4 separate regions of the Homo sapiens genome follow, and all the other regions are linked to region 2. The links come from fine-mapping of genetic effects on gene expression. A gene starts in region 2. Each other region holds a variant in brackets. All regions are shown on one strand. Distances are from middle to middle. Region 1 holds the start of LOC124904633 (a long non-coding RNA gene). Region 2 holds the start of MYO1F (myosin IF). Region 3 overlaps MYO1F (myosin IF). Region 4 overlaps MYO1F (myosin IF).

Region 1 (7,972 bases), 52 kb after region 2:
GACACACCTGTCAGATACACCCTCACCTGGCCAGATGCATCTCTCAACAATCACACATTCATTCACCTTGTCTAGAAGCCCCAACCACGAGGCCACCCTTGCCTATCCTAGACACACCCATCCATTAGGTACACTCTACCTTCAACCTGGAAATTAGATATACCTTCACCTGGCCCAGACACACCTGTCCACAGGTACACTCTCACCTGGCCCAGGCAGCCTAGTCCATAGGTACATGCTCTCTACAGGGATACATCACCTGACCCGTGCATTCATGCTTGGCATAGACAGCTGGGCACCTCCACCAACAGACACATCCTCTTCTGCCCCAGACAGCCCTGAACCTACGTGTACTCTAATCACCTAGCCTGGACTCTCCTGTCCACAGGTACACCCAGACTTGGCCTGTTTACCGTCACCTGTACCTGGGCGGGCCAGGTACACACTCACTTGACCCATATCTCATGTCCCAGAGAGTCACCTAGCCCAGTAACTCACCCTACCCTCACCTTAGAGAGGCCTATGTGTGGCAGGTACACACTGAGATCACCTATATACCATCTTTACCTGGATGGATAGTCTCATATGGCCTGGACACCCTCACCTACCTTGGACAAGTTTATGTGGCAGGTGCCTCCTCACATGATCTGTACAACTTCACATACCAGACACACATTATTGGGTACCTTCACCTGATCCACCCACCTGCTTTGGACAGGTCTGTGTGGCAGGTATGCCCTCTCAGGTGACCTGTATACCATCACCTTAAATGTTTTCACTGAGACAGGTATCCCCACTAGACCCAGAGAACTCTGACCGCAGGCCAGCTCAACCGGCTTGCACATTCACCCTTCTACCAGGTACACCCTCACCTGCCTTCCTGTACAAACTCATAGAGTTCAGATACACACCCGCTCACTTCCTCTCATGATCCAGATACTCCTATTTACCTGACTTGTACACCCTCACCTGAACCATAATACCTTTACCTGAGCTGGCTACAGTCACATGACCCAAGTACTTTCACCTGGTCTAAGTGTTCTCATCTGGCCCGGGAACCCATGTCCAGCAGGTGCCTTACCTACCCAGCACCTGTTCACTGACCCAAACACCCTTTTCTAGCCAACCAACCAACCAACACATTCCCATCTGACCTCGTTTCTTTTTTGTTTTTCTTTTTTGTTTTTTTGAGACAGAGTTTTGCTCTTTTGTGTGTGTGTGTTGAGTCAGAATCTTGTTATGTCGCCCAGGCTGGAGTGCAGTGGCACAACCTCGGCTCACTGCAACCTCTGCCTCCCAGGCTCAAGCAATTCTCCTGCCTCAGCCTCCCGAGTAGCTGGGACTACAGGCATGTGCCACCACGCCCAGCTAGTTTTTTGTATTTTTAGTAGAGATGGGGTTTCATGGTATTAGCCAGGATGGTCTCAATCTTCTGACCTTGTGATCCACCCACCTCAGCCTCCCAAAGTGCTGGGATTACAGGCGTGTGCCACCGCGCCTGATCTGTTATTTTTTGTTTGTTTGTTTTTGAGACAGGGTCTTGCTCTGTCACCCAGGCTGGAGTGCAGTGGCAGGATCTCGGCTCACTGCAACCTCATCCTCCTGGGTTCAAGCGATTCTCCTGTCTCAGCCTCCTGAGTAGCTGGGACTACAGGTGCCCACCACCTCGCCCAGCTAATTTTTGTATTTTTAGTAGAGACGGGGTTTCACCATGTTGGTCAGCCTGGTTTCAAACTCCTGACCTCATGATCTGCCCGCCTCGGCCTCCCAAAATGCTGGGATTACAGGCGTGAGCCATGGCACCCAGCCCTCCTTCTGTTTCTTATATAACAACTCATGGCCAGGCGTGGTGGCGCACACCTGTAATCCCAACCCTTTGGGAGGCCAAGGAGGACAGTTTGCTTGAGATCAGGAGCTCAAGACCAGCCTGGGCAACAGGGCAAAACCCTGAATCTACAAAAAATACCAAAATTAGCTGGGCATGGTGGTGCGCACCTGTGGTCCCAGCTACTCAGGAGGCTGAGGCAGGTGGATCACTCAAGCCCAGGAGGGGGAGGTTGCAGTGAGCTATGATGGCACCACTGCACTCCAGCCTGAGCGACAGAGTGAGACCCTGTCTACAAAACAGACGACTCATACACCTTCACCTGGAGGGCTCCCACCTTCCTCACCTGACCTGCCAGCACCACCCCTCTGCCTGGGGTGGATCCTCTGTGGCCAGGCTGGCCAGGCTACAGGCATCAGCCTCTAATCCTGCATCCCCACAGCCCATCAAGCGGGACTTGATCCTGACGCCCAAGTGTGTGTATGTGATTGGGCGAGAGAAAGTGAAGAAGGGACCTGAGAAGGGCCAGGTGTGTGAAGTCTTGAAGAAGAAAGTGGACATCCAGGCTCTGCGGGGAGTCTCCCTCAGGTGAAGCCAGGTCCTTACCTGCCGCACAGTCACTCTCACCTGTCCCCTGGCTGCCCTCATTCTAGTGACCCCGTCTGTTACCCTGACAATCTTACCTGGTGCCATGCCTGTAGCCCTCTGTTGGCCCCACCTGTCATGTTCACCTGCCCCCTATGCTCATGATCCTTAGATGCCAAAT[C/G]CTTCCGTCCTGCACCTTACCCTCTTACTAGACCTCACCTGGCCCTCTTCTGTAACCACCTCTTCCACTCCTTGCCACATCCCCCTTTTTCTCCTACCTGGTCACCGCTGACTTGGCCCTTAGCTGACCCTTCCCTAAATCCACCTTCAGCCACCTTCATCTGTCTCTCTCACCTGTCGCCCTCACCTGTGTCCCACCTGACGCTCTCACCCGCCCCTCCCCAGCACGCGACAGGACGACTTCTTCATCCTCCAAGAGGATGCCGCCGACAGCTTCCTGGAGAGCGTCTTCAAGACCGAGTTTGTCAGCCTTCTGTGCAAGCGCTTCGAGGAGGCGACGCGGAGGCCCCTGCCCCTCACCTTCAGCGACACGTACGGCCCCGCCAACCCCAGCACCATCTCGGGGTGGTCTCGGCGCGGCGCACCCTCTCCCGCCCCACCGACCCGGCCGAACTGCGCTTCGGCCCCGGCCGCGGCCCCGCCCCTGCCCCAACCAGCGAGAGTTGGGTGGGGCGGGGGACCTCAGCCAGCGCCCCCAAGCTTTCTTCTCTCCCCATAGACTACAGTTTCGGGTGAAGAAGGAGGGCTGGGGCGGTGGCGGCACCCGCAGCGTCACCTTCTCCCGCGGCTTCGGCGACTTGGCAGTGCTCAAGGTTGGCGGTCGGACCCTCACGGTCAGCGTGGGCGATGGGCTGCCCAAGAGCTCCAGTGAGTCTGCGCGGAACTAGGGCAGAGGGGGCGGGGCCAGCGAGGCTGGTTAAGAGTGGACGAAGGCCAGGAAGGGGAGTGTCTACAGAGAGAGAGAGAGAGACTTTTGAGTTTTGTGGTTTTTTTAAGACGGAGTCTCACTCTGTCGCCCAGGCTGGAGTGTTGTGGCACGATCTTGGCTCACCGCAACCTCCGCCACCCGGGTTCAAGCGATTGTCTTGCCTCAGCCTCCCGAGTAGCTGGGATTACAGGCGCCTGCCACCGCGCCCAGCTAATTTTTGTAGTTTTAGTAGAGACGGGGTTTCACCATCTTGGCCAGGCTGGTCTTGAACTCATTACCTCATGCTCCACCCGCCTCGGCCTCCCAAAGTGCTGGGATTACAGGCGTGAGCCACTGCGCCCGGCCAGAGAGACAGACTTTTAAACAAAGGCCGCAACCAATTAGTGGGCGTGAAATGTGGAGGAGGGACGTGGCCATGGAGGAAACCAATCAAAATAGTGGGGCGGGGCCAGCAGGCTGGACCAGAGAGGGCAACAGCAAGGAAGGGGCGGGTCTAGAGAGAGAGAAAGACTGTTAAGGAGAAGACATGACCAATGCGGGGGCGAGAAATGTAGAGGGGTGCGGCCAGAGCGGCAACCCTGGAACTGGGTAGTGATGAAGGAGTGACCTAAAGTGGGCGGGCCCAAAGAGCAAGGCCAGTGAGGTGTTGGGCCCTTGGGGGGCGAGGCCAATTAGTGGGCGGAGCCAGTGTAACTGTACCTAAGGGGCGGTGCTAATGGGAGAGCCTGAGGGGGCGGGGTGCGGCGGAGCCTCAGAATGGACTAGATTTGTGGGCGGGGCAAAGAGCGTGGTCTGTCTGTCATTCAACTCCCTGACACTCTTCTTTCAGAGCCTACGCGGAAGGGAATGGCCAAGGGAAAACCTCGGAGGTCGTCCCAAGCCCCTACCCGGGCGGCCCCTGCGCCCCCCAGAGGTGAGGAGCTGCGTCCCTTGCTATATTCCCTTGTCTGTTGTGGGTCCCATGGCCTAAGCCAGACCTTCAGCAAACGAAATCTAACAAACACAGTTTACCACTCACTTCTCTGTCCAGGACTCTCCGTAGCTCCACATCTCCCGCAGAATAAAGGCTAAACTTAGTTTGGCATTCAGAGCCCTTCAAAACCCAAACCCAGCTAACCACTGACATCTTCTCTCCTCCTACCCTACACTCCTGCCCTGTAAACTACATCTTTTTTTTTTTTTTTTTTTTTTTGAGATGGAGTCCAACTCTGTCTCCCAGGCTGGGGTGCAGTGGAGCGATCTCGGTTCACTGCAACCTTCACCTCCTGGATTCAAGCGATTCTCCTGCCTCAGCCTCCCGAGTAGCTGAGATTACAGGCACCCGCCACCACGCCCGGCTAATTTTTGTATCGTTTTAGTAGAGACAGGGTTTCACCACGTTGTTCAGGCTGGTCTCGAACTCCTGACCTCAGGTGACCCGCCCGTCTCGGCCTCCGAAAGTGCTGGGATTAACAAGCATGAGCTACGGCGCCTGGCCTCAAACTACATCTTATTTTCCCAATTCACAAAATTTATTCTTACCTCCAGGCCTTTGGGCCGTTTTCTCTGCTTCTCTCTCAAATTCCCATTCCATTCGTTGAGCTCTTATTTATCCACCAAGACGTACCCACAGAAGCTCTCCTACAGAGGATAGGAGGAGGGAAACTTGCCCCTGCAAAGCCACTCCTGGCCAGGCAAGATGGCTCACACCTGTAATCCAAGCACTCTTGGTAGGCCAAGGCAGGAGGATCACTTGAGTTCAAGATCAGCCTGGGCAACATAGCAAGATCCTGTCTCTACCAAAAATTCTTTCTTTTTTTTTTTTTTTTTGAGACAGTCTCGCTCTGTCACCCAGGCTGGAGTGCAGTGGCATGATCTTGGCTCACTGCAACATCCACCTCCTGGGTTCAAGCGATTCTCCTGCCTCAGCCCCCTGAGTAGCTGGGACTACAGGCGTGTGCTACCACGCCTAGATTTTTTTTTTTTTTTTTTTTTTGAGACAGAGTCTAGCCCTGTTGCCCAGGCTGGGGTGCAATGGTGCGGTCTCAGCGCACTGCAACTTTCCACCTTCTGGGTTCAAGAGATTCTCCTGCCTCAGCCTCCCCAGTAGCTGGGATTACAGGCATGCACCACCATGCCCAGCTAATTTTATCTTTAGTAGAGACAAGGTTTCACCATGTTGGCCAGACTGGTCTGGAACTCCTGACCTCGTGATCCACCCGCCTCGGCCTCCCAAACTGCTGGGATTACAGGTGTGAGCCACCGCGCCCGGCCTTTTTTTTTTTTTTTTTTTTGAGACGGTGTCTTGCTCTGTTGCCCAGGCTGGAGTGCAGTGGCGTGATCTTGGCTCACTGTAACCTCCACCTCCCAGGTTGAAGCAATTCTCCTGCCTCAGCCTCCCGAGTAGCTGGGACTACAGGCACACGCCATCATGCCTGGCTAATTTTTGTATTTTTAGTAGAGGCAGAGTTTCACTATGTTGGCCAGGCTTGTCTCAAACTCCAGACCTCGTGATCAGCCCACCTTAGCCTCCCAAAGTGCTAGGATTACAGGCGTGAGCCACCGCGCCTAGCCTAAAAATTCTTTTTAAATTAGCTGGGCATGGTGGTGTGTGCCTATAGTCCCAGCTATTTAGGAGGCTGAGAGGGGAGAATATCATGAGCCTAAGAGTTGGAGTCTGCAGTGAGCTATGATCTCACTGCTGCACTCCATCCTGGGCCACAGAGCAAAACCCTGTCTCTAAACAAATAAAAAATAAATAAGGCCAAGTACAGTGGCTCATGCCTGTAAAACCAGCATGTTGGGAGGCCGAAGTGGGAGGATTGCTTGAGGCCAGGAGTTTGAGACCAGCCTGAGCAACATAGTGAGACCCCATCTCTACTTTAAAAATTATAAAAATCAACTGGGCATAGTGGAGCATACCTGTAGTCCCAGCTCCCCTTAAAAGGAGGCTAAGGAGGGAGGATTGCTTGAGCCCAGGAGGTCAGAGTTGCAGTGAGCTACGATTGTACCACTGCACTCCAACCTGGGCGAGAGTGAGACCATGTCTCAAAATAAACAAATAAAAGTAAAAAATAATTGGCCAGGCGCGGTGGCTCATGCCTGTAATCCCAGCACTTTGGGAGGCCAAGGCGGGCGGATCACAAGGTCAGGAGATCGAGACCATCCTGGCTAACATGATGAAACTCCGTCTCTACTAAAAATATTTAAAAAATTATCCAGGCGTGGTGGCAGGTGCCTGTAGTCCCAGCTACTCGGGAGGCTGAGGCAGGAGAATGGCGTGAACCCAGGAGGCGGAGCTTGCAGTGAGCCGAGATCGCGCCACTGCACTCCAGCCTGAGCGACTGAGCAAGACTCCATCTCAAAAAAAAAAAAAAGTAAAAAATAATTTTAAAATTATGCTTAAAAAAGCTTCTGTCTAGGCCCTCCTAGCGGCAGAGTCCCTCCGTCTGGCCCAATCCTTACCACACTGGGTTGAGAGTGTCGCAGTCTCCTCCCTCAGCCTGAGAACTTGAAGCCAAGTCCTCCTCAAATCCTCCTAGCATCACCCTAATACATGTCTTCATCCTTGCTCCTGCCACAGGCATGGATCGCAATGGGGTGCCCCCCTCTGCCAGAGGGGGCCCCCTGCCCCTGGAGATCATGTCTGGAGGGGGCACCCACAGGCCTCCCCGGGGCCCTCCGTCCACATCCCTGGGAGCCAGCAGACGACCCCGGGCACGTCCGCCCTCAGAGCACAACACAGAATTCCTCAACGTGCCTGACCAGGGCATGGCCGGGTAGGTGGGGTGGGAGGGCAGCTCCAGGAGGTGGGCAGGGGGTAGGGGAGTGTCTGGGGCTGTGACTCAAACCCCCTGTGCCCACAGCATGCAGAGGAAGCGCAGCGTGGGGCAACGGCCAGTGCCTGGTGTGGGCCGACCCAAGCCCCAGCCTCGGACACATGGTCCCAGGTGCCGGGCCCTATACCAGTACGTGGGCCAAGATGTGGACGAGCTGAGCTTCAACGTGAACGAGGTCATTGAGATCCTCATGGAAGGTGTGTGTACCAGGGCAGAAGCTGGGGTGAGGGGAGTGGTAAGAACCCTGACATCGGCCGGGCGCGGTGGCTCACGCCTGTAATCCCAGCATTTTGGGAGGCCAAGGCGGGCAGATCACGAGGTCAGGAGATCGAGACCATCCTGGCTAACACAGTGAAACCCCGTCTCTACTAAAAATACAAAAAATTAGCCGGGCGTGGTGGCGGGCGCCTGTAGTCCCAGCTACTCGGGAGGCTGAGGCAGGAGAATGGCATGAACCCGGGAGGCGGAGCTTGCAGTGAGCCGAGATTGCGCCAACACACTCCAGCCTGGGCGATAGAGCGAGACTCCGTCTCAAAAAAAAAAAAAAAAAGAACCCTGACTGACATTGCCAGGCAGACCCCACCACTGCACACCCTCCCCACGGGAGAACAGAGATAACAGATGGGCGAGGTGGCTCATACCTGTAATCCCAGCACTTTCAGTGGCTGAGGCAGGAGGATCACTTGAGGTCAGGAGTTTGAGACAAGCCTGGGCAACCTAGCAAGACCCCATCTCTACAAAAGATTTACAAAAAAAAAACTTTTAAAGAGTAGAAATGGCCGGATGCAGTGGCTC
Region 2 (7,972 bases):
GTAGATGCAGTGCTCTCACTATGTTGCCCAGGCTGGTCTCAAACTCCTGGGCTCAAGCAGTCCTCCTGCCTTGGTCTCCCAAAGTGCTGGGATTACAGGCATGATACACTGTACCCGGCCCTTTTCTCATTACTAATGTGTCTGTGTTGGCCCCCAACCCTACACTCTCTCTCTTAAATCCTCAAAACAGCCTAGTGACATCGGTGCTATTATAAGCCCCCTTTGATAGTTGAGGAAACTAAGGCACAGAAGTCAGGCGTGGTTTGCTCACACCTGTAGTCCCAACTACTTAGGAGGCTGAGGTGAGAGGATCACTTGAGCTCAAGAGGTGGAGACCAGCCTGGTCAACATAGCAAGATAACATCTGTAAAAAAAAAAAAAAAAAAAAAAAAAAAAAGTAAATTTAAAAAGAAAGAAACCAAGGCACAGAAAGTCACTGGCCAGGAAGCACTGCAGGTCGTGTGTGCAGCCCTGCGGGGAGGGCAGCTGAGACCTGATTTTTCCTTCCTTCTCCCGTCCCCGCAGAGTGCAAGGATGTGAACAAGGTCGCCTACTGCCCCCTGGTGCTCAAATTTCAGTTCTGCAGCCGAGCCTACTTCCGCCAGATGTGCTGCAAAACCTGCCATGGCCACTAGGGGGCGCGCGGCACCCGGAGCCACAGCTGGCGGGGTCTCCGCCGCCAGCCCTGCAGCGGGCCGGCCAGAGGGGGCCCCGGGGGGGCGGGAACTGGGAGGGAAGGGTGAGACGGAGCCGGAAGTTATTTATTGGGAACCCCTGCAGGGCCCTGGCTGGGGGGATGGAGAGGGGCTGGCTATCCCCCCAGAGCCCCTCTTCAGCATCCGCCCCTTCCAGTTCACATAGTGAGACCCCCCCTCCAGGGTGGGTCTGGGGAGGGGACAGCTGTTCACCCCAGCACCCTTTGAACCCACCCTTAGGGAGTCCCCAACACTCCCCCCCTCCTTTGATCGGAATATGTACTGTGAAGAGTAGGGGTGGGGAGGTGGTCTGCCGGTGCCCTGCCCCCCAGCACTGCCCTACCCCTCCACTCCGAGCTGGGGGGGAATCTGTGTCTGCTATGGGAGGGGGGGGGGTAGCACCACCTCCCTGACACCCTCCCCTGACCTGACTAGGGGGAGGATCCACCCCAACCTCTGCCCTGCCCGCCCCAGGGGCACCCCGACATCCAGGCCACCCCCTCATGGTGCTACAGACCCTGCCCTGGGGCCCACACACTCCTGCCAGGAAGCCCTACATCAATAAAGTTCTGTCTTGTGTAGATTTCTACGAATTGCGGTGTGTGTGTGTCAGTGCATCCAGTAGCCCCCACCCAGGTCTGGAAAGGACCACCCATTCTCCCAGGTCTACCCAACAGCCAAAAGGGGACTTCTTTTTTTTTTTTCCTGAGACGGTCCCTGTCGCCCAGCTATGCCTATCATAGCTCACTGCAGCCTTGATCTCCTGGACTCAAGTGATCCTCCCACTTCCACCTTCTGAATAGCTGGGACTACAGGCGTGCACGACCACACCCAGCTGATTTATTTATTTTTTTTTTTTATTTTTTTTTTTTTTTGAGACGGAGTCTTGCACTGTTGCCCAGGCTGGAGTGCAGTGGCACGATCTCGGCTCACTGCAAGCTCCGCCTCCTGGGTTCATGCCATTCTCGCCTCAGCCTCCCGAGTAGCTGGCACTACAGGCGCCCGCCAACATGCCCAGCTAATTTTTTGTACTTTTTTAGTAGAGACGGGGTTTCACCGTGTTAGCCAGGATGGTCTCGATCTCCTGACCTCGTGATCTGCCCGCCTCGGCCTCCCAGAGTGCTGGGATTACAGGCATGGGCCACCGTGCCCAGCCAGAAGGGGACTTTTAACATTGCAGACAGGAACCCAGGGATTTTAGGAGAAAAGTACAACAGCTTCTCGTGGAAGGGTTTTGCTTTTTTGTTTTTGTTTTTTGAGACAGGGTCTCACTCTGTAGCCCAGGCTGGAGTTCAGTGGCACGATCTCAGCTCACTGCAGCCTTGAACTCCTGGGCTTAAACGATTCTCCTGCCTACCCTGCCAAGTAACTGAGATTATAGGTGCAACAGCACACCTAGCTGATTTTTTAATTTTTTGTAGAGACGAGGTCTTGCTATGTTGCCCAAGCTGGTCTGGAACTCCTGGGCTCAAGCGATCCTCCCACCTCAGCCTCCCAAAGTTCTGGGATTACAGGCATCAGCCACCATGCCTGGCCCTCACAGAGGCTCTTAAAGCCACACGGTCTAGCACCTGCCACCCTGGCCATCACACTCTCCGTCACTCCGCATGCTCCAGCCACACCAGCCTCCCCGAACTTCCTCAATTGCCCTATGGTTTTCCCATATCTGGGCCTTTGCTTGAGCGCTTAGCATGGCCAGGTGCACGCTCCTGCCCCTTTACCTTTTTTAACTCCAGCTTACTCGCCGGTGTCAGCACAAACGTTGCCTCTTCCTAGAAGCCTCCCCTGATGGCCCCCAACAAAGTGGGGTCCTCTTACCCATTCATATTCACTCTTGAGTGCCTGGAGACATTGCTGAGAATTGCATGCCCCAAGCCCGTCAATTCTGCAAACTCGCTCAGGAGATTCCAGCAGAGACGGGCTCCTTCCCAGCTGTGGCCACTAGGGGCGCTGCATATTAACATCTTCAAGGGGGATGCGGGTTTATCGCCCTGGACCAAAGATAGATCTGAACATGGGTCCCCCAGGGTCTCCCAGGGTCGGGTCCTGCCTCGGCCACCTCCTTGCTGGGTGGTGTGGGGAAGTAACAACCTATTAGAACTGCCATTTCCTCACATGTCAAGAGGAGCCTCAGGTGGTTGGCTGGTGTCCCAAAGACCAGCTCATAGGCTGACACGTACCTGGGCCAGGCTCTGCTGGGGGGACCCACGTTCCCATTTTACAATGAGAAAAGGGAGTAACTAAGTCATCCAGGAAGTAGCCAAACTGGAGGCTGTTAAATCTAGATGTGACATCCAAAGTCAGGGACCTTTCAGATGCACCTGCTTCCCAGTACCCTCCACTTCTGCACACAAACACGTGTGACTTCTGAGGGTCATCTAAAGAGGGAGGTTGGGCCAGGCGTGGTGGCTTATGCCTGTAATCCCAGCACTTTGGGAGGCCGAGTTGGGAGGATCACCTGAGGTCAGGAGTTCAAGGCCGGCCTGGCCAACATGGCGAAATTCCGTCTCTACTAAAAATACAAATATTAGCCAGGTGTGGCGGTGGGCACCTGTAATCCCAGCTACTCAGGAGGCTGAGGCAGGAGAATCGCTTGAACCCAGGAGGCGGAGATTAAAGTAAGCTGAGATTGCACCACTGCATTCTAGCCTGGGTGACAGAGCTAGACTCCGTCTCAAAATAATAACAATAATAATAATGAAGGAGGTTGCCCAGGGATGCCCAGAGCAGACACAGCTGAAGAAGGCACCCTTCCCTGTTGTTGTTGTTTTTTTGGTTTTTTTGTTTTTTCTGGTTTGTTTTTAGAGACAGGGTCTCACTCTTTCGCCCAGGCTGGAGTGCAGTGGCGCAATCAGGGCTCACTGAGGCCTCCACCTCCCAGGTTCAAGCAATCCTCCCACCTCAGCCCTCTGAGTAGCTGGGACTGCAGGCTCATGCCACCATGCCCAGCTAATTTTTTTTCTTTTCATTTTTTGTAGAGATGGGGTCATGCTATATAGCCCAGGCTGGTCTCAAACTCCTGGACTCAAGCGATCCTCCAACCTTGGCCCCCCAAAGTATTGGGATTACAGGCGTGAGCCACCTCCCCTGGGCCCCTTCCTTGGTTTTAAAAAGAGACCCGGGAAGCCCAAATGCTTCCTGAATCGCCCTGAAAAGAGGTGGTTCGTCCTGCAGCCAGCTGACCCAAATGTTCCTGCAGCAGCCCTGTCCCCAAGGAGTTGGGGAAGAGGCCTCTGAGGTCCAGTAGTGGCTGCCATCAAGTTCTGACCCCTCCCTTCAGGCTCAGAGCCCCAAACAGCCAGCTCCCCGCCCCCCTCCACACCCAGCTTCCCTCCCCCATGGCCTCGGCCCCTCCCGCCAAAGGAAGTGAGAAGGGGCTGTTGTAAGAGGAACTAAAGCCGGGAGTCCGGTGAACGGGCAGAAGCAGGGCCATGCCCAAGCCACCCCCAAGATCCCCCTGAACCTGCACCTCCATCACGACCCATTCAGGAGCCTCCAGGAGCCCAGACACCAGCCCCCCACCATGGTAAGTCCTTCAAGGGTGGGATCTGGAAGAAGAAAGAGGAGGGACACCAGCCAGGTGGAGGTGTCCTAAAAATGACCATCAGAAATTGGGGTGAGGGGAGGGGCATGGTGGACTTCTGTGGGGGTGGGGTGTCTCTCAGTGCAGCTCAGGTGCCTCCAGCATCCCTTACCAGGGAGCAAGCTCCCATCTGTAGGTGGTGGGGATGCCAGGGTGGTATCCCTGGATCCAAGGATAGGGCAGGACCTGGAAGACAGAAGGTGGCCCAGGGAGAATCACAGAGTCTGCAGGGACAAGGACATAGCCTCCTTTGCTTGCAAATTAAGGGAGCCCTTTCCCAGTCCAGCCCAGTCTCTCGTCTCCCTGTGTAGCCTTGGGCTAGTCACTTCCCCTCTCTTGGCCCCGGTTCCCACAGATGTCATATTTGGAAATCCGTCTAGATGCGGAAGTTGCTCTTCAGGGGTCTTTCAGTTGCAACATTCTCAAGGTCTGTGGGTTCTGCCACAGAGTCCTCGGCTGAGATGGGAAGCTATGTCTAACAAGCGATGGGGTGGATTGACGCCCTCCCTGTGCCGGTGACGGGCGGTATGGCTGCAGCAGAGGCAGGAGAGGCTGAATACGTCCATGCCACCCTTTGGTGGGCATCCCTTATCCCAAGAGGAGGATGGCAGCCAGAGGTGTTGCTGCCTGTCAAGTCTGAGGTCTGTCGATGATAGCAACGGGGAGACTGTCGTGATCATGGCGCTATTCCTAGCAGTATCGTACCACCATAAGACGCAAAGTAAGAGGTGGCCAGGGCTGACCCCACCCCACAGCTCTCTGCTGTGTAGACCACTTCAGCTTTCATTTCTCGTCATTCAGTCAGTGAGGATGAGAGCATGTGGCTGTGACAGCGGCCACTGCAGGATTCTTGGCAGGTACAGCTTACTAGGGTGGAGTCAGGGACATAGGGCAAGAGGCAGAGGTGGTGTTAGTCTGAGAGACAACACCTTCTTTCAGGAAGCCAGTGAGGGCCAGGGACAGTGGCTCATGCCTGTAATCCCAGCATTTTAGGAGGCTGAGACAGGTAGATCACTTGAGGTCAGGTGTTCGAGACCAGCCTGGCCAACGTGGTGAAACCTCGTCTCTACTAAAAAATACAAAAAATTAACTGGGCGTGGTGGCACACGCCTGTAATCCCAGCTACATATGAGGCTGAGGCAAGAGAATAACTTGAACCCAGGAGGCGGAGGGTGCAGTGAGCTGAGATCCTGCCGCTGCACTCCAGCCTGGGTGACAGAGCACACTCCGTCTCAAAAAAGGAAAGCTGATGAGAAATTGGGCATCCCGGAATTCACACCCAAACCATCAGCTGGAGCTCTGAGACTGTTGGGGTGGGAATTCTTCCAAGATGAGAAGCAAGCCAGGGAGGCTCAGGTCCTGGGATGGGCAGGGCTTTGATCAAAAGAACACAGGAAGTGATTTGCTACTTGAAAGAAAGGCAACCCCTCCCCAAGGAAGCCCTCTGAAAATGCTTAGTCAACAGTCGGCTTGGCAGACAAGGTCTGGGAGGGGCCACCCGTATCGCAGAGGATGATAGAAGAGAAAAAAATGACACCCACCTCTGTCTGGGGATGCTGAAATCTTCCTGGAGGAGTGGTGAATGCCAGGAAGATCGCTGAAGGATTCAATGAAACAGTATTTCTGAAGTCCTTTACAACAGGGTCCCCAACCCCCGGGGTCATGGACTGCTATCGGGCCATGGTCTGTCTGTTAGAAACCATGAGCCCTATCGGGTCACAGAGCAGGAGATGAGTGGCAGGCAAGCAAGCCCGAGCTCCACCTCCTCTCAGATTCTCGGGGGCGCCATTAGATTATCACAGGATCGCAAACCCTGTTGTGAACTGCACACACGAGGGATCCAGGTTGCATGCTGCTTATGACAATCTAATGCCCGGCCGGGTGCGGTGGCTCACACCTGTAATCCTAGCACTTTGGGAGGCCGAGGCGGGCAGATCACGAAGTCAAGAGATAGAAACGATCCTGGCCAACGTGGTGAGACCCCGTCTCTCCTAAAAATACAAAAATGAGCTGGGTGTGGTGGCACATGCCTGTCATCCTAGCTACTCGGGAGGCTGAGGCAGGAGAATCGCTTGAACCCGGGAGGCGGAGGTTGCAGTGAGCCAAGATCACACCATTGCACTACAGCCTCGGCGACAGAGCCAGACTCCGTCTCAAAAAAAAAAAAAAAAGAAAAAGAAAATCTAATGCCGTTGGCAGGGTGCAGTGGCTCATGCCTGTAATCTCAACACTTTTGGAGGCCGAGGTGGGCGGATCACCTGAGGTCAAGAGTTCAAGACCAGCCTGGCCAACATGGCAAAACCCTGTCTCTACTAAAAATACAAAAATTAGCCAGTCGTGGTGGTGCGCGCCTGTAACCCCAGCTACCCGGGAACCTGAGATAGGAGAATCACTTGAACCCAGGAGGCAGAGGTCGCAATGAGACGAGATCACGCCACTGCACTCCAGCCTGGGCCACAGAGAGAGGCTCCATCTCAAAAAAAAAAGAAAGAGAGAGAGAAAGAAAGAAAGAAAAAGAAAGAAAGAAAGAGAAAGAAAAAGAAAGAAAGAGAGAAAGAGAAAGGAAGAAAGAAAGAAAGAGAGAAAGAAGAAAGAGAAAGAAAGGAAAGAAAGAAAGAAAGAAAGAAAGAAAGAAAGAAAGAAAGAAAGAAAGAGAGAGAGAGAGAGAGAGAAAGAAAGAAAGAAAGAAAGAAAGAAAGAAAGAAAGAAAGAAAGAAAGGGAAAAAAGAAGAAATAAAGGAAAAGAAAGAAAAGAAAATCTAATGCCCCGCTCCATGGTCCATGGAAAAATTGTCTTCCATTAAACCGGTCTCTGGTGCCAAAAATGTTGGGGACCATTGCTTTACAGAGCACATAACATGCACTTGATCCATGGTAGCTGCCATTAGCTGGGATGTCCATTCATTTCTGGATTCAGCAATGAGGATGGACGGAGGTGACGATTGTGGTAATTGGGGAGGAGTTGCTGCGAGTGGTCATTGCTGGGTTGTTGGTGTCATTGGTTGTGGTGGTGGTTGTGGCTGTTTCTTGTTGCAGGTTCGTGGTGATAATGGCTCTTGCAGGTGGGCTGGTGGTGGTGGCGGTTGGTGTTTAATGTTGTTCGTTGGTGGTGGATTGTTTTCAGCTGGAAATTCTGGAGATGCTTGGTGACCAGTGGAATGATGACCATCGGTGGTTGCTGTTATTTGGAGAGGAAAGGTGTTGGTAGTAGCGTTCATTTGCTGCTGGTAGTTTATTGTTGGTTTCTGGTAAGATGATGATCAGCAATGGTGGTGCTGGTTCAATGTTGGGTTTTGAACAGGATAGGACTGGTGACTGCTGCTTTCTGTGGTTGCTAATGGTAGTTGGTTATGTGTGGTTGTTGATGGCTAGTATTGTTTTTTTGTTTTGTTTTGTTTCTGAGACAGAGTCTCGCTCTGTCACCCCGGCTGGAGTGCAGTGGTGCAATCTCGGCTCACTGCAACCTCCACCTCCTGGCTTCAAGCAATTCTCGTGCCTCAGCCTCCCAAGTAGCTGAGATTACAAGCACCTGCCACCACACCCAGCTAATTTTTGTGCTTTTAGTGGAGACGGGGTTTCGCCATGTTGGCCAGGCTGGTCTCCAACTCCTAACCTCAAGTGATCCACCCGCTTTGGCCTCCCAAAGTGTGAGATTACAGGTGTGAGCCACTGTGCCTGGCCGATGACTAGATGG
Region 3 (6,224 bases), 30 kb after region 2:
ACGACGCTCACGCCTGTAATCCCAGCTACTCGGGAGGCGGAGGCAGGAAAATCGCTTGAACCTGGGATGAGGAGGTTGCAGTGAGCCAAGATCATACCACTGCACTCCAGCCTGGGCAACAGAGGGAGACTCTGTCTCAAAAATAAAAAATATAATAAAAAACAAAGCCCAGAGAGGTGCAGGCACTTACCCAAGGTCACGCGGCAAGTGACTGAAAGGGGTAGGACAGGGACCCAAGGGTGCTCACTCCCTGAGTCCGTGCTGTGGTCCCTCAAGCCTGCCCCTGGAGGCAGGTTGGAGGCCAGGATTCACGGCACAGTTTCTGCCCCCGTTGTACCACAGAGTGCTATGCAGGTTATTGGGATCCCGCCCAGCATCCAGCAGCTGGTCCTGCAGCTCGTGGCGGGGATCTTGCACCTGGGGAACATCAGTTTCTGTGAAGACGGGAATTACGCCCGAGTGGAGAGTGTGGACCGTGAGTGTGGGTATCAGGGAGGGCTGGATGGAGGCCTGTGGGTGGGTGAACTGCGTCCTCCTAGCTCAGCCCCCAGGAAGCTGAAAGCCCACGAGGAAAAAAATGTGGGTGTCACTGGGCAAGATGGGGATAATAGGAGGCCCATGCAGGAGGCACAAGAGCCCAACCAACTGTCCCATTTTTGCCCTGACCTTTGCCCTGGTAGTCCTGGCCTTTCCCGCCTACCTGCTGGGCATTGACAGCGGGCGACTGCAGGAGAAGCTGACCAGCCGCAAGATGGACAGCCGCTGGGGCGGGCGCAGCGAGTCCATCAATGTGACCCTCAACGTGGAGCAGGCAGCCTACACCCGTGATGCCCTGGCCAAGGGGCTCTATGCCCGCCTCTTCGACTTCCTCGTGGAGGCGAGTGGGGCTGGGGCTGGAAGGCAGAGTGGATGCTCTGGGGTCACAAACATTTATGGAAGCTGAGTGCAGTGGCTCACGGCTGCAATCCCAATGCTTTGGGTGGCTGAGTTGGGAGCATTCTTTGAGGCCAGAAGTTCAAGACCAGCCTGGGCAACATAGCAAGACCCCCATCTCTACAGAAATTTCAAATTAGTTGGGTGTAGTGGTGTGCATGTGTAGTTCTGGCTACTCAGAGGGCTGAGGTTGGGGGATCATTTGAACCCAGGAGGTTGGGGCTGCAGTGAGCTATGATTGCGCTATTGTACTCCAGCCTGGGTGACAGAGCAAGACCCTGTCTCTAAAAAAAACTTTTGGCCAGATGCAGTGGCTCATGCCTGTAATCCCAGCACTTTGGGAGGCTGAGGTGGATGGATCACTTGAGGTCTGGAGTTTGAGACCAGCCTGGCCAACATGGTGAAACCCCCTCTCTACTAAAAATTACCCGGGAGTGGTGGCACATGCCTTTAATCCCAGCTACTTGGGAGGCTGAGGGAGGAGAATCACTTGAACCTGGGAGGTGGAGGTTGCAGTGAGCTGAGATCGTGCTATTGTATTCCAGCCTGGGCAACAGAGAGAGACTCTGTCTCAAAATAAATAAATAAATAAAATAAAAACTTTTTTAATGTATGGAGTCAGCCTGGGCAACATGGCAAAACCCTGTCTCTACAAAAATACAAAAATTAGCCGGGCATGGTGGCTGGTGCCTGTAATCCCGGCTACTCAGGAGGCTGAGGTGGAAGAATCCCTGACCCCAGGAGGTTGAGGCTGTAGTGAGCCATGATCAAGCCACTACACTCCAGCCTGGACAACAGACTGAGACCCTGTCTCAAAATAAAAAATAAAAATAAATAAAGTATAAAATGTATGGCCAGGTGCAGTGGCTCATGCCTGTAATCCCAGCACTTTGGGAGGTCAAAGCGGGCAGATCACCCAAGGTCAGGAGTTCAAGATCAGCCCTGGCCAGCATGGCAAAACCCCGTCTCTACTAAAAATACAAGAATTAGCCGGGCGTGGTGGCGCATGCCTGTAATCCCAGCTACTTGGGAGGCTGAGGCAGAAGAATCTCTTGAATCCTGGAGGCAGAGGTTTCAGTGAGCCGAGATTGCGCCACTGGCATTCCAGCCTGGGCAACAGAATGAGACTCCATCTCAAAAAAAATAGAAAAGAAAAAGCCCCATAAGGTAGTTGCTATTATCAACCCCTTTTAAAGATAAGAAAATAGAGGTGCAAGGCCGGGCGCAGTGGCTCACACCTGTAATCCCGGCACTTTGGGAGGCCGAGGCGGGCGGATCACGAGGTCAGGAGATCGAGACCACAGTGAAACCCCGTCTCTACTAAAAATACAAAAAATTAGCCGGGCGTGGTGGCAGGCCCTTGTAGTTCCAGCTACTTGGGAGGCTGAGGCAGGAGAATGGTGTGAACCCTGGAGGCGGAGCTTGCAGTGAGCCGAGATCATGCCACTGCACTCCAGCCTGGGCGACAGAGTGAGACTCCGTCTCAAAAAAAAAAAAGAAAAAAA[A/G]AAAAAGAAAATAGAGGTGCAGAGAGGTTCAGGGGCAGAGTCAGCTCTGGAGTCAGGGACCCTGATACACTGACACTTGGGTTTCTCCTCTGAGTGACTGATTATGGGGTGGGGAGACTGTACACAGAGCCAGGAAGGGCAGAGCTAAAGAGGGCTGGAGGGAAACTGGCATGAGGGGACATCACCCATGAAGTTGGCTAGGCGTGTGTCTAAGGAGTGGTGGGCAGGGGCTTCAGATCTGACCGATGCCCACTGACTTCCTGTCCCCACCCACACCGCAGGCCATCAACCGTGCTATGCAGAAACCCCAGGAAGAGTACAGCATCGGTGTGCTGGACATTTACGGCTTCGAGATCTTCCAGGTACGGCCCCCTGCCTCCAGCCCACATCCTGTCCTCCCTGGGGCAGCCCAGGGTGGCCACAAGAACTTCCAGCACCAGGACATTGAGGGAAGGACCCTTTTCCTCCTTCTGCAGAAAAATGGCTTCGAGCAGTTTTGCATCAACTTCGTCAATGAGAAGCTGCAGCAAATCTTTATCGAACTTACCCTGAAGGCCGAGCAGGTGGGCGGCCAAGCAGTCAGGGATGGGGGATCCTGGGGTGGGGGTGGGGTGGAAGGACCATGAGGATCCCTTAGCAACTAGGGGACACCCCAGCCCTCCCCACCGCGTTCCCACCTCTCTGTGCCAACCTACCCAGGCTCCATAGTGATACTTCCTTCTGCCTCTAAAGCTTTGGGAAGGACCGTGCCTCTTAGTTCATTCATTCAGCAATTATTTATTGAGCACCTGTTGTGTGCCAGGTACTGTTTAGGGTGCTTGGAGACACAGCCATGAACAATAAGGCAATAGTCCCTGCTGTCTTCATTTTGCCCCTCCCCCAGAAGCAGAGCCTGAGGCAAGGATTCAGAGACAAATGGTTTTTCTGGGAGGCAATCCCAGGAAGCTCCAAGAGGAGACTGAGGAAGTAAGTCAGGGATTTTTTTTTTTTTTTTTGAGACAAAGTCTCGTTCTGTCACCCAGGCTGGAGTGCAGTGGCATGATCTCGGCTCACTGCAACCTCCGCCTCCAGAGTTCAAGTGATTCTCCTGCCTCAGCCTCCCGAGCAGCTGGGACTACAGGCACCCACCACCATGCCCAGCTAATTTTTGTATTTTTAGTAGAGACAGGGTTTCATCATATTGGCCAGACTGGTCTCAAACTCCTGACCTCGTGATCCACCCACCTCAGCCTCCCAAAGTGCTGGGATTACAGATGGGAGCCACCATTCCCCGCTTTTTTTTTTTTTTTTTTTTTTTTGAGACAGGAACTCGCTCTGTTGTCCAGGCTGGAGTGCAGTGGTGTGATCACAGGTCACTGCAGTCTACACCTCCTGGGCTCAAGCAATCCTCCCACTTCAGCCTCTCAAGTAGCTGGGACCGCAGGCACACACCATCATGCCTGGCTAATATTTTAAAACTTTTTTGTAGAGTTGGTGTTTCACTTTGTTGCCCAGATTGGTCTTGAACTCCTGGCCTCAAGCAATCCTCCTGCCTTGGCCTGCCAAAGTGCTGGGACTACAGGCATGAGTTAATATGCCCAGTCCTGAGACAGGGATTTTTTTAACAAAGAGAGAGAGAGAGGCTGGGTGCAGTGGCTCACGCCTGTAATCCCAGCACTTTGGGAGGCTGAGGTGGGTGGATCACCTGAGGTCAGGAGTTTGAGACCAGCCTGGCCAACATGGTGAAACCCCATCTCTACTAAAAATATAAAACTTAGCCAGGTGTGGTGCTGGGCACCTGTAATCCCAGCTACTCAGGAGTCTGAGGCAGGAGAATTGCTTGAACCCAGGAGGCAGAGCTTGTAGTGAGTCGAGATTGTGCCATTGCACTCCAGCCTGGGCAACAGCAGAATGAGACCCTGTCTCAAAAAAGAAAAGAAAAAAAGAGAGAGACAGACCGAGCCAGACACAATCACTCACACCTATAGTCCCAGCTATCTAGGAGGCTAAGTTAAGAGGATCGCTTGAGCCTGGGGGTTCAAAGCCAGCCTGGACAACATAGTGAGACCTCATCTCTACAAAAAACATAAAAATTAGCCAGGCATGGTGGTGTGCTCCTACGGTCCCAGCTACTCGGAAGGCTGAGATGAGAGGATCACTTGAACCCTGGAGGTCAAGGTTGCAGTGAGCTAGGATCGCATCGCTGAGTTCCAGCCTGGGTAACAGAGCAAAACCCGGTCTCAAAAAAAAAAAGCAAGCTGTGTGCGGTGGCTCATGCCTGTAATCCCAGCACTTTGGGAGGCCGAGGTGGGCAGATGTCCTGAGGTTGGGAGTTCGAGACCAGCCTGACCAACATGGAGAAACCCCATCTCTACTAAAAATACAAAATTAGTCCGGCGTGGTGGCACATACCTGTAATCCCAGCTTCTCGGGAGGCTGAGGCAGGAGAATCGCTTGAACTCGGGAGGCGGAGGTTGCGATGAGCCAAGATCGTGCCATTGCACTCCAGCCTAGGCAACAGGAGTGAAACTCCATCTCAAAAAAAAAAAAAAAAAAAAAAAAAGAGTCAAAATAGTGTGTTAATGAGCACGTTATGCTGTGGACAACCGGAATGCAACTGCACTGGGACTCGAGGAGGCTTCATAGAGCGGAGAAGCGAGGGAGCTGGGGTATTTATCCACCCACTCCTGTTGATTATTGGTCAAGGACTGCTGAAACCAGATGTAATTCCCTGGCACTTCCAGCCTTGCCCACATAGGAGTGACGGGCTTTGTTACCAGAGACAGTCCTAAGTGATGAGATGGAGAAGGGGAGAGGACATGGGGGGAAGGGTGGCCACAACTTTTTCACTGGCCCCCACATCCACCCCCTTTTCCACCCCAGGAGGAGTATGTGCAGGAAGGCATCCGCTGGACTCCAATCCAGTACTTCAACAACAAGGTCGTCTGTGACCTCATCGAAAACAAGCTGGTGAGGGCTGGGTCAACTTTGGCGGGGGCGTCTCACTGGTCCCCTGAGCTGAGTCTGGAAGATGAGGGGGAGGGCCAAGGGTGTTATGGCATCCTCAGGCCCTTCTCTACCCTACACTCAGGACTTCCAGCGACAGATAACAACCAAAATGTCCCTTCCGCCCCTCATCCATTCATTCCGCCTACTTGTCCACCTTTCACTTAATCATTCAATAAACATTTCCCCGGGAACCCCAGCTCACAGTTAGAGTCAAATTTGCAGATTCCATGCCGGTGGCTCACGCCTGTAATCCCAGCACTTTGGGAGGCCAAGGTGGGCGGATCACCTGAGGTCAGGAGTTCGAGACCAGCCTGACCAATATGGTGAAAACCTGTCTCTACTAAAAATACAAAAAATTAGCCAGGCGTGGTGGCAGGCGCCTGTAATCCCAGCTACCCGGAAGGCTGAGGTGGGAGGATCACTTGAGCCCAGGAAGTCAAGGGTGCAGTGAGCTATGATTGCACCACCACACTCCAGCCTGAGGAACAGAACAAGACCCTGTCTCAAAAAAAATTAAATTTAAGACGTATTTAGGCGGGACATGGTGGCTCATGCCTGTAATCCCAGCACTTTGGGAGGCCAAGGCAGGTGGATCACCTGAGGCCAAGAGTTCGAAACCAGCCTGGCCAACATGGTGAAACCCCATCTCTACTAAAAAATACAAAAATTAGCCGGGCATGGTGGCGGCATGCCTGTAATCCCAGCTACTCAGGAGGCTGAAGCAGGAGAATCACTCGAACCTGGGAGATGGAGGCTGCAGTGAGCTGAGATCACGCCACTGCTCTCCAGCCTGGGCAA
Region 4 (7,972 bases), 43 kb after region 2:
ATTAATAAATAAATACTAAAATAAAATAAAATAAAAATGCAAGCCAGGCACAGTGGCTCAAGCCTGTAATCCCAGGACTTTGGGAGGCTGAGGCAGGTGGATCACCTGAGGTCAGGAGTTGAAGACCAGCCCAGCCAACATGGTGAAACCCCGTCTCTACTAAAAATATATATATAAAAAAAAAGGAGCTGGGTGTGGTGGCAGCTACTCGGAAGGCTGAGGTGGGAGAATCACTTGAACCTGGGAGACGGAGGTTGCAGTGAGCCGAGATCATGCCACTGCACTCCAGCCTGGCAACAGAGCGAGATTTTGTCTCCAAATAAAAATAAAAATAAAAATAAAACAAAATGCAAAACCCAAGGCAAACCTCTCAGGCATACACACAGTTTCCCTACCTCCAAAGTACATGTCTTAGCCAGGCACAGTGGCTCAGACCTGTAATCCTAGCTACTCCGGAGGCTAAGGCAGTTGATCGCTTGAGCACAGGAGGCTGAGGCTACAGTGAACTATCACGGCGCCACTATACCCCAGCCTGAGTGACAGAGGGAGACCCTGTCTCAAAAAAAATCACCCAGCCAGGTATAGTGGCTCATGCCTGTAATCCCAACACCTTGGGAGCCAGAGGTGGATGGATCACCTGAGGTCAGGAGTTCATGACCAGCCTGACCAACATGGCAAAACCCTGTCTCTACTAAAAATTATCCGGGTGTGGTGGCACATGCCTGTAATCCCAGCTACTTGGGAGGCTGAGGCAGAAGGATCTCTTGGATCCAGGTGGTGGAGGTTGCAGTGAGCCAAGATGGCACCATTGCGCTCCAGCCTGGGTGACAGAGCAAAATTCCATCTCAAAACAAAATAAAACAGAACAAAACAAAAAAAACAAACACCCAAGGTACCTATCTCCCCAAAGGACAAAAAGAAATGCTCTCATAAGGGCTCTGTTACTCAGTCAACAAACATTTACTGAGCACTTACTATGTGCCAAGGTAAGTGGTGAGTGCGGTAGACGTGAGAGCTCCTTGTCTTGGGTTCCAGGGTCAGGCAGACACCCCACATCAGTCCCACTAGTGTGGTGTGCACTAGTGGAGGTGCACACAGACCAGGGACATCTGGCCCCTGTGGCTTATCTGTTACCAGCCCTCACCCACCCCCAGTCTCTGTCTATTGGGACTGTATCCAGGGTGGAAAAAAGAGGGGCCAGAGGGTCCCATCTCTGTGCCCCCCACCCACCCGTCTTCACTTCTGCCTCAGAAACAAGCCAACGACCTGGTGGCCACACTGATGAGGTGCACACCCCACTACATCCGCTGCATCAAACCCAACGAGACCAAGAGGCCCCGAGACTGGGAGGAGAACAGGTGATCCCCCCCAACCAATCCAAGATTCATTCCCCCCAGGCCCTGCAGTTACCCCTAGAACTGACCGAGACACCTCCCTGACCTCCTGTAGGATGACCCAGGGACTAGCACAGCCCCTCCCACAATCCCCCACCTGCAGAACTGACCCCAGAAGGGACCATCAGGACAAGATCCCTCCCCCCAGTCCCCAGGCTGACCCCCGAAGCCCCCCCAGACCACAGAACTCACCCCCCAAACTTCCCTCAGCATGAATCCAGATCCCCCCAGGTCCCCCACCTCCAGCACCTCCCACCCACCCCCAGGACTGGTGACTCCCCACCCCGAGGGGACTCAGCCTACCCTCCCCACCAGAGTCAAGCACCAGGTGGAATACCTGGGCCTGAAGGAGAACATCAGGGTGCGCAGAGCCGGCTTCGCCTACCGCCGCCAGTTCGCCAAATTCCTGCAGAGGTGAGGAGCCCTCCACCCCCGCCCTCGCCATCCCCTTCATCAGAACGCCCAGCCAGGCCTGTCTGCTATGAGCACTCCCACACCCCAGCCCTCCGCCCTCAGGTATGCCATTCTGACCCCCGAGACGTGGCCGCGGTGGCGTGGGGACGAACGCCAGGGCGTCCAGCACCTGCTTCGGGCGGTCAACATGGAGCCCGACCAGTACCAGATGGGGAGCACCAAGGTCTTTGTCAAGAACCCAGAGTCGGTGAGTGTGTTTGAGGGACAGGCAGAGAAGGAGAGGGGAAGAGAGAGAAAGGTATAGAGAGGGACTGAGAGAGAGAGAGAGAGACAGAGGGAGACAGAGATTGAGAGAAAGACTGATAGATTGAGAAATTGAGAAACAGATTGAGAGAGAGGGATTGACAGAGAAACTGAGATAGAGGTTGAGAGAGAAATTGAGAAAGCAAGTGAGAGATTAATAGACTGAAAGTAAGAGACTGAGAGAGACTGAGCGAGAGATTAAGAAAGACTGCGACTGCCGGGCGCGGTGGCTCATGCCTGTAATCCCAGCACTTTGGGAGGCTGAGGAGGGCGGATCACAAGGCCAGGAGATCGAGACCATCCTGGCTAACACAGTGAAACCGCGTCTCTACTAAAAATACAAAAAAAATTAGCCGGGCATGGTGGCGGGCACCTGTGGTCCCAGCTACTCAGGAGGCTGAGGCAGAAGAATGGCTTGAACCCAGGAGGCAGAGGTTGCAGTGAGCCGAGATCACGCCACTGCACTCCAGCCTGGGCGACAGAGCGAGACTCCGTCTCAAAAAAAAAAAAGAAAGAAAGAATGTGATTGAGAGATTGAGAGAGAGAGATTGAGAGAGACACTCTGGAAGAAATAGACCAAAAATTTTGACATAGAACAGAAAAAAGGCAAAATAAAACTAGCACCAAGTCAGGTGTGGTAGCGCATGCCTGTAATATCAGTGCTTTGGGAGGCTGAGGCAGGAGGATGGTTTGAAGCCAGGAGTTCGAGACCAGCCTGGGAAACATAGTGAGACCCTGTCTCTACAAAAGACAAAAAGAAAAAAGAAAAATAACTATCACCAGCAAAGACTATATAAAGTAAAATTTAATTTAGACAAAAATTTCAGTCTATAGATTTTGATTTGGAGAAGACGGACGGGGTAGAAATAATGAAATTCACGATGGCAGATGCTTAGTGGTAAAATCCTATAAGAACATCAACAACAAAGACAGACTGAATATTTATAAAAGAAAGAAAATAATCCTGATGAAAATAATCTTGCTGGCCAGGCGCACTGGCTCACACCTGTAATCTCAGCAATTTGGGAGGCTGAGGTGGATGGATCACTTGAGGTCAGGAGTTTGAGACCAGCCTGGCCAACATGGTGAAACCCCTTCTCTATTAAAAGTACAAAAATTAGCTGGGCGTGGTGGTGCACACCTGTAATACCAGCTACTCAGGAGGCTGAGGCAGGAAAATCACTTTAACCCAGGAGGCAGAGGCTGAAGTGAGCCAAGATCGTGCCACTGCACTCAAGCCTGGGCAACAGTAATTTAATTTTAGTAAAATAAGCTGGGTGCAGTGGCTCACGCCTATAATCTCAACACTTTGGGAAGCCGAGGCGAGTGGATCACGAGGTCAGGAGTTCAAGACCAGCCCGACCAACATGGTGAAACCCCGTCTCTTCTACAAATACAAAAAATTAGCCAAGTGTGGTGGTGCGCACCTGTAATCCCAGCTACTCAGGAGGCTGAGGCAGGAGAATCACTCAAACCCAGGAGGCAGAGGTTGCAGTGAGCCGAGATCGCACCACTGCACTCTAGCCTGGGCAACAGAGTGAGACTCCATCTCAAAAAAAAAAAAATTAGTAAAATGAAAATAGAAGAAAAGGCCAGGCACGGTGGCTCACAACTGTAATCCCAGCACTTTGGGAGGCCAGGGTGGTGGATCACTTGAGGTTAGGAGTTCGAGACCAGCCTGGCCAACATGGGGAAACCCCATCTCTACTAAAAATACAAAATAAGCCGGGCATGGTGACACGTGCCTGTAATCCCAGCTACCTGGGAGGCTGAGGCAGGAGAATTGCTCGAACCTGGGAGGCAGAGGTTGCAGTGAGCTGAGATTGCGCCACTGCACTCCAGCCTGGGGGACAAAGTGAGACTCTGAAAAAAAGAAAAGAAAAGAAAAGAAAAATAGCCAACGGTTTAACTGTGCTATATTTAAAAAGTAATCAAGAAATTAAATTAGCTTAATGGAGTTGGAGCCTTTCTCAACCAAAAATGCATTCATGTTGGGATGAATTTTTTTTTTTTTTTTTAGACAGAGTCTCGCTCTGTCACCCAGGCTAAAGTGGAATGGCGCAATCTTGGCTCACTGCAACCTCCACCTTCCTGGTTCAAGCAATTCTCCTGCCTCAGCCTCCCAAGTAGCTGGAATTACAGGCACCCGCCACCACACCAGGCTAATTTTTGTGTTTTTAATAGAGATGGGTTTTCACCCTGTTGGCCAGGCTGGTCTCCTGACCTCAAGTGATCTGCCCACCTCAGCCTCCCAAAGTGCTGGGATTATATGCATGAGCCACCGCGCCCGGCCCCTATTTTGATTTTCTTATGAACATGGTTTGGGCCATCCTCAAACATTTTATCTGCCTGTTGGCCTTTGTGGCCCAGCATCCCAGGTATGTTATAATAGTCTGCTGGGACAGCTGAAACAAAGTTCCACAAACTCCATGGCTTAACACAACAGCAATTTATTCTCTCACAGTTCCGCAGGTCAGAAGTCCAAAATCAAGGTGTTGGCATGGCCATACTCTCTAAAGGTTTTAAAGAAGAATCTGAGGCTAAGCGTGCTGGCTCACGCCTGTAATTCCCAGCACTTTGGGAGGCCGAGGCAGGCGGATCATGAGGTCAGGAGATTGAGACCACCCTGGCTAACACAGCAAAACTATGTCTCTACTAAAAAAATACAAAAAAGTTAGCCAGGCATGGTGGCGGGCGCCTGTAGTCCCAGCTACTCGGGAGGCTGAGGCAGGAGAATGGCGTGAACCCAGGAGACGGAGCTTGCAGTGAGCCAAGATCGCACCACTGCACTCCAGCCTGAGCGACAGAGCAAGACTCCGTCTCAAAAAAAAAAAAAAAGAAGAAGAAGAAGAAGAAGAAGAATCTGAGGCTGGGCACGCTGGCTCACGCCTGTAATCCCAGCACTTTGGGAGGTCAAGGCTGGTAGATTCCTTGAGCCCAGGAGTTCCAGACGAGTCTGGACAACATGGCAAAACCCCAACTCTACCTCTCTACCAAAAAAATATATATATAATAATACCATAATTAGCCTTGAGTGGCTGAGGTGGGAGGATCCCTTGAGCCCGGGAGCCGAGATCGCACCACTGCACTCCAGCCTGGGAAACAGAGCAAGACCCTGTCTCTGAAAAAATTAAAACTATTTTGGTCAGCAGAGCAGGGAGCAAGGCTCTTAGCAGCAATGTGCTACCTATGGACTTGGGAAAGCACTCTGGGTGAAGTGCTAATTTTTCTAAATAAAGCCCAATTGTGTGTGTGTGTGTGTGTGTGTGTGTGTGTGTGTGTGTGTGTGTGTATTTTTTTTTTTTTCTGAGACAGGATCTCACTCTATCTCCCAGGCTGGAGTGCAGTCGCACAATCACAGCTCACTGCAGCCTCAACCTCCTGGGCTCAAAGAATCCTCCCACCTCACCCTCCGGAATAGCTGGGACTACACATGCGTGCCATCACCCTC[A/G]GCTAATTTTTGCTTAGTTTTTGTAGAGACGGGGTCTTTCTATGTTGCCCAGGCTGGTCTTGAACTCCTGGGCTCAACAATGCTCCCACCTTAGCCTCCCAAACTGCTGGGATTAGAGGCATGAGCCACCGCACCCAGCCTATATTTGCATTATTTCCCATCTTCACTAATTGACAATATTGTCCCTTTGATCACAGTTTCTCTTTGAAGTAGGATGTTTCTCAAGCATCTGCCCTATTCCAGTTAATCATTCTATTCTCTGACAGGCATGCTATTGTTTTTATTACTATAGATTTACAGTATTTTAATATCCAGTAGGTTCCTCACCTTGTTCACCTGCTGTTATTACAAATGAGTAGACATTCCTCTTAGACTTTGTACTTTGACTTGCTGTAATGTAATTCATTCTCTAAGTCCCCTCTGGGTCTAGACTTTTACAACTCAAAACCCTTTTCTCTGCTTTCTGCAAAAGCTTCCTTTCTGGGCCTGCTACGGATGGCTGTGCAGGTTGTACACTGCCCAACCACACGGTTGCTAGTCACATCACAGTTCTACACATCAGATTTTCTTTTTCTTTCTTTTTTTTTTTGAGATGGAGTTTCATTCTTTTCTTTTTTCAGGGGTCGGGGGACTGAGTCTCACTCTGTCGCCCAGGCTGGAGTGCAGTGGCGCAATCTCCGCTCACTGCAACCACCACCTCCCGAGTTCAAGCGATTCTCCTGCCTCAGCCTCCCGAGTAGCTGGGATGACAGGCATGCGCCACCACACCCGGCTAACTTTTGTATTATTAGTAGAGACGGGGTTTCACCATGTTGGCCAGGCTGGTCTCAAACTCTTGACCTCAGGTGATCCGCCCACCTCGGCCTCCCAAAATGCTGGGATTACAGGCTTGAGCCACTGCACCCGGCCACATTTTCATATTTACTGTATTTTATTGGTTTTCCAAGATGCACACTGGTTCCTATTTCTACCATCTCTGACACGGCAGTGTACCTCGTGGATAGTGTCGAGTAACAGTGTAAGAAACCGTGACATCATACCGTTTCTTGCAAAAGCACACAGGTAGTAAGTGGCACAGCTGTGATCTGAAGCTAGTGACTCACTGTTATCATGTAAGGCAGAAGTGTGTACCCCACATGGGGAGAGACGCACAGGGAGGTCCAGTCATTTGGAGGAAGATAAAAATTTTTCCAGCCTGGGCAACATGGCAAGACCACATCACCACAAAATTAGCTGGGCATGGTGGCTCACAGCTGTAGTCCCAGCTACTCAGGAGGCAGAGGTGGGAGGATCACTTGAACCCAAGAGGTTGAAGCTGCAGTGAGCTATGACTGCACCACCACACTCCAGTCTGGGCGACGGAGCGAGACCCTGTCTTTTTCTTTTTTTCTTTTTTTGAGATGAAGTTTTGCTCTTGTTGCCCAGGCTGGAGTGCAATGGCACAATCTCAGCTCACCGCAACCTCCAACTCCCAGGTTCAAGTGATTCTCCTGCCTCAGCCTCCTGAGTAGCTGGTATTACAGGCATGTGCCACCATGCCCGGCTAATTTTATGTTTTTAGTAAAGACAGGGTTTCTCCATGTTGATCAGGCTGGTCTCAAACTCCCGACCTCAGGCGATCTTCCCGCCTCAGCCTCCCAAGGCGCTGGGATTATAGGCATGAGCCACCAGCTTTTTTTGTTTTTGTTTTTTGTCTTTTTGAGATGGAGTTTCACTCTTGTTGTCCAGGCTGGAGTGCAATGGCGCGATCTCAGCTCACTGCAACCTCCGCCTCCCGGGTTCAAGTGATTCTCCTGCCTCAGGCTCCCGAGTAGCTGGGATCACAGGCATCTACCACCATGCCCAGCTAATTTCTTTTTGTATTTTTAGTAGAGATGGGGTTTCACTATGTCGGTCAGGCTCGTCTCAAACTCCTGACCTCAGGTGATCCACCCGCCTCGGCCTCCCGAAGTGCTAGGATTACAGGCGTGAGCCACTGCGCCCGGCCCCTTTTTCTTCTTTTCTTTATGAACGAGTGTCACTAGAAAGACCCCGCCTCTTAAAAAAATTAGCACATGTGTGGGGATGGGTGAGCAAAAGCGTGTGAGTAGGGTGAGCGCAGGGAAAACCCGGAACTGCAGCCCCTGGGGAGACACCAGGACTCACCCTTGCCCCCCACGACCCCCGCCCAGCTTTTCCTCCTGGAGGAGGTGCGAGAGCGAAAGTTCGATGGCTTTGCCCGAACCATCCAGAAGGCCTGGCGGCGCCACGTGGCTGTCCGGAAGTACGAGGAGATGCGGGAGGAAGGTGAGAGGCTTCGGGTAAACGGCGCGGGGTGGGGGCACAAGGACCTGGAGGAGCTGTATCAGGAGCTCTGCCCTCCACCCTCTGTCCCCGCAGCTTCCAACATCCTGCTGAACAAGAAGGAGCG

What was found.
Region 1: its variant is fine-mapped to the expression of MYO1F in whole blood (TOPMed, PIP above 0.99).
Region 3: its variant is fine-mapped to the expression of MYO1F in whole blood (TOPMed, PIP 0.90).
Region 4: its variant is fine-mapped to the expression of MYO1F in whole blood (TOPMed, PIP 0.98).

Annotation. Positions count from the first base shown.
Region 1 is chr19:8,521,779-8,529,750 of GRCh38, reverse strand. MYO1F (myosin IF) reads left to right here. Exons shown (of 28, transcript NM_012335.4): 22 at 2,268-2,413; 23 at 2,816-2,962; 24 at 3,150-3,298; 25 at 4,189-4,272; 26 at 6,922-7,117; 27 at 7,205-7,374. It overlaps LOC124904633 (a long non-coding RNA gene), which reads right to left and starts at 3,306. Exons shown (of 3, transcript XR_007067131.1): 1 at 3,207-3,306. RefSeq lists enhancers at 3,023-3,998, 6,575-7,074 and a silencer at 4,039-4,118. The variant C/G (reference allele first, on the strand shown) is at 2,592.
Region 2 is chr19:8,573,556-8,581,527 of GRCh38, reverse strand. It overlaps MYO1F (myosin IF), which reads left to right and starts at 4,086. Exons shown (of 28, transcript NM_012335.4): 1 at 4,086-4,221. The coding sequence starts at 4,219. It overlaps ADAMTS10 (ADAM metallopeptidase with thrombospondin type 1 motif 10), which reads left to right. Exons shown (of 26, transcript NM_030957.4): 26 at 526-1,288. The coding sequence ends at 635. RefSeq lists silencers at 699-748, 2,560-2,754, 3,975-4,124, 4,662-4,711 and enhancers at 4,832-5,011, 5,182-5,241, 5,582-5,641.
Region 3 is chr19:8,544,813-8,551,036 of GRCh38, reverse strand. It overlaps MYO1F (myosin IF), which reads left to right. Exons shown (of 28, transcript NM_012335.4): 9 at 343-475; 10 at 681-877; 11 at 2,720-2,800; 12 at 2,915-3,001; 13 at 5,301-5,387. LOC124904633 (a long non-coding RNA gene) reads right to left here. Exons shown (of 3, transcript XR_007067131.1): 3 at 3,712-4,952. Among named protein-coding and RNA genes, the nearest start is that of MYO1F, 30 kb to the left of the region's middle. The variant A/G (reference allele first, on the strand shown) is at 2,439.
Region 4 is chr19:8,530,335-8,538,306 of GRCh38, reverse strand. It overlaps MYO1F (myosin IF), which reads left to right. Exons shown (of 28, transcript NM_012335.4): 17 at 1,252-1,358; 18 at 1,710-1,808; 19 at 1,911-2,055; 20 at 7,734-7,848; 21 at 7,942-7,972. The region is part of intron 1 of LOC124904633 (a long non-coding RNA gene); the gene reads right to left. Among named protein-coding and RNA genes, the nearest start is that of ZNF414, 20 kb to the right of the region's middle. The variant A/G (reference allele first, on the strand shown) is at 5,563.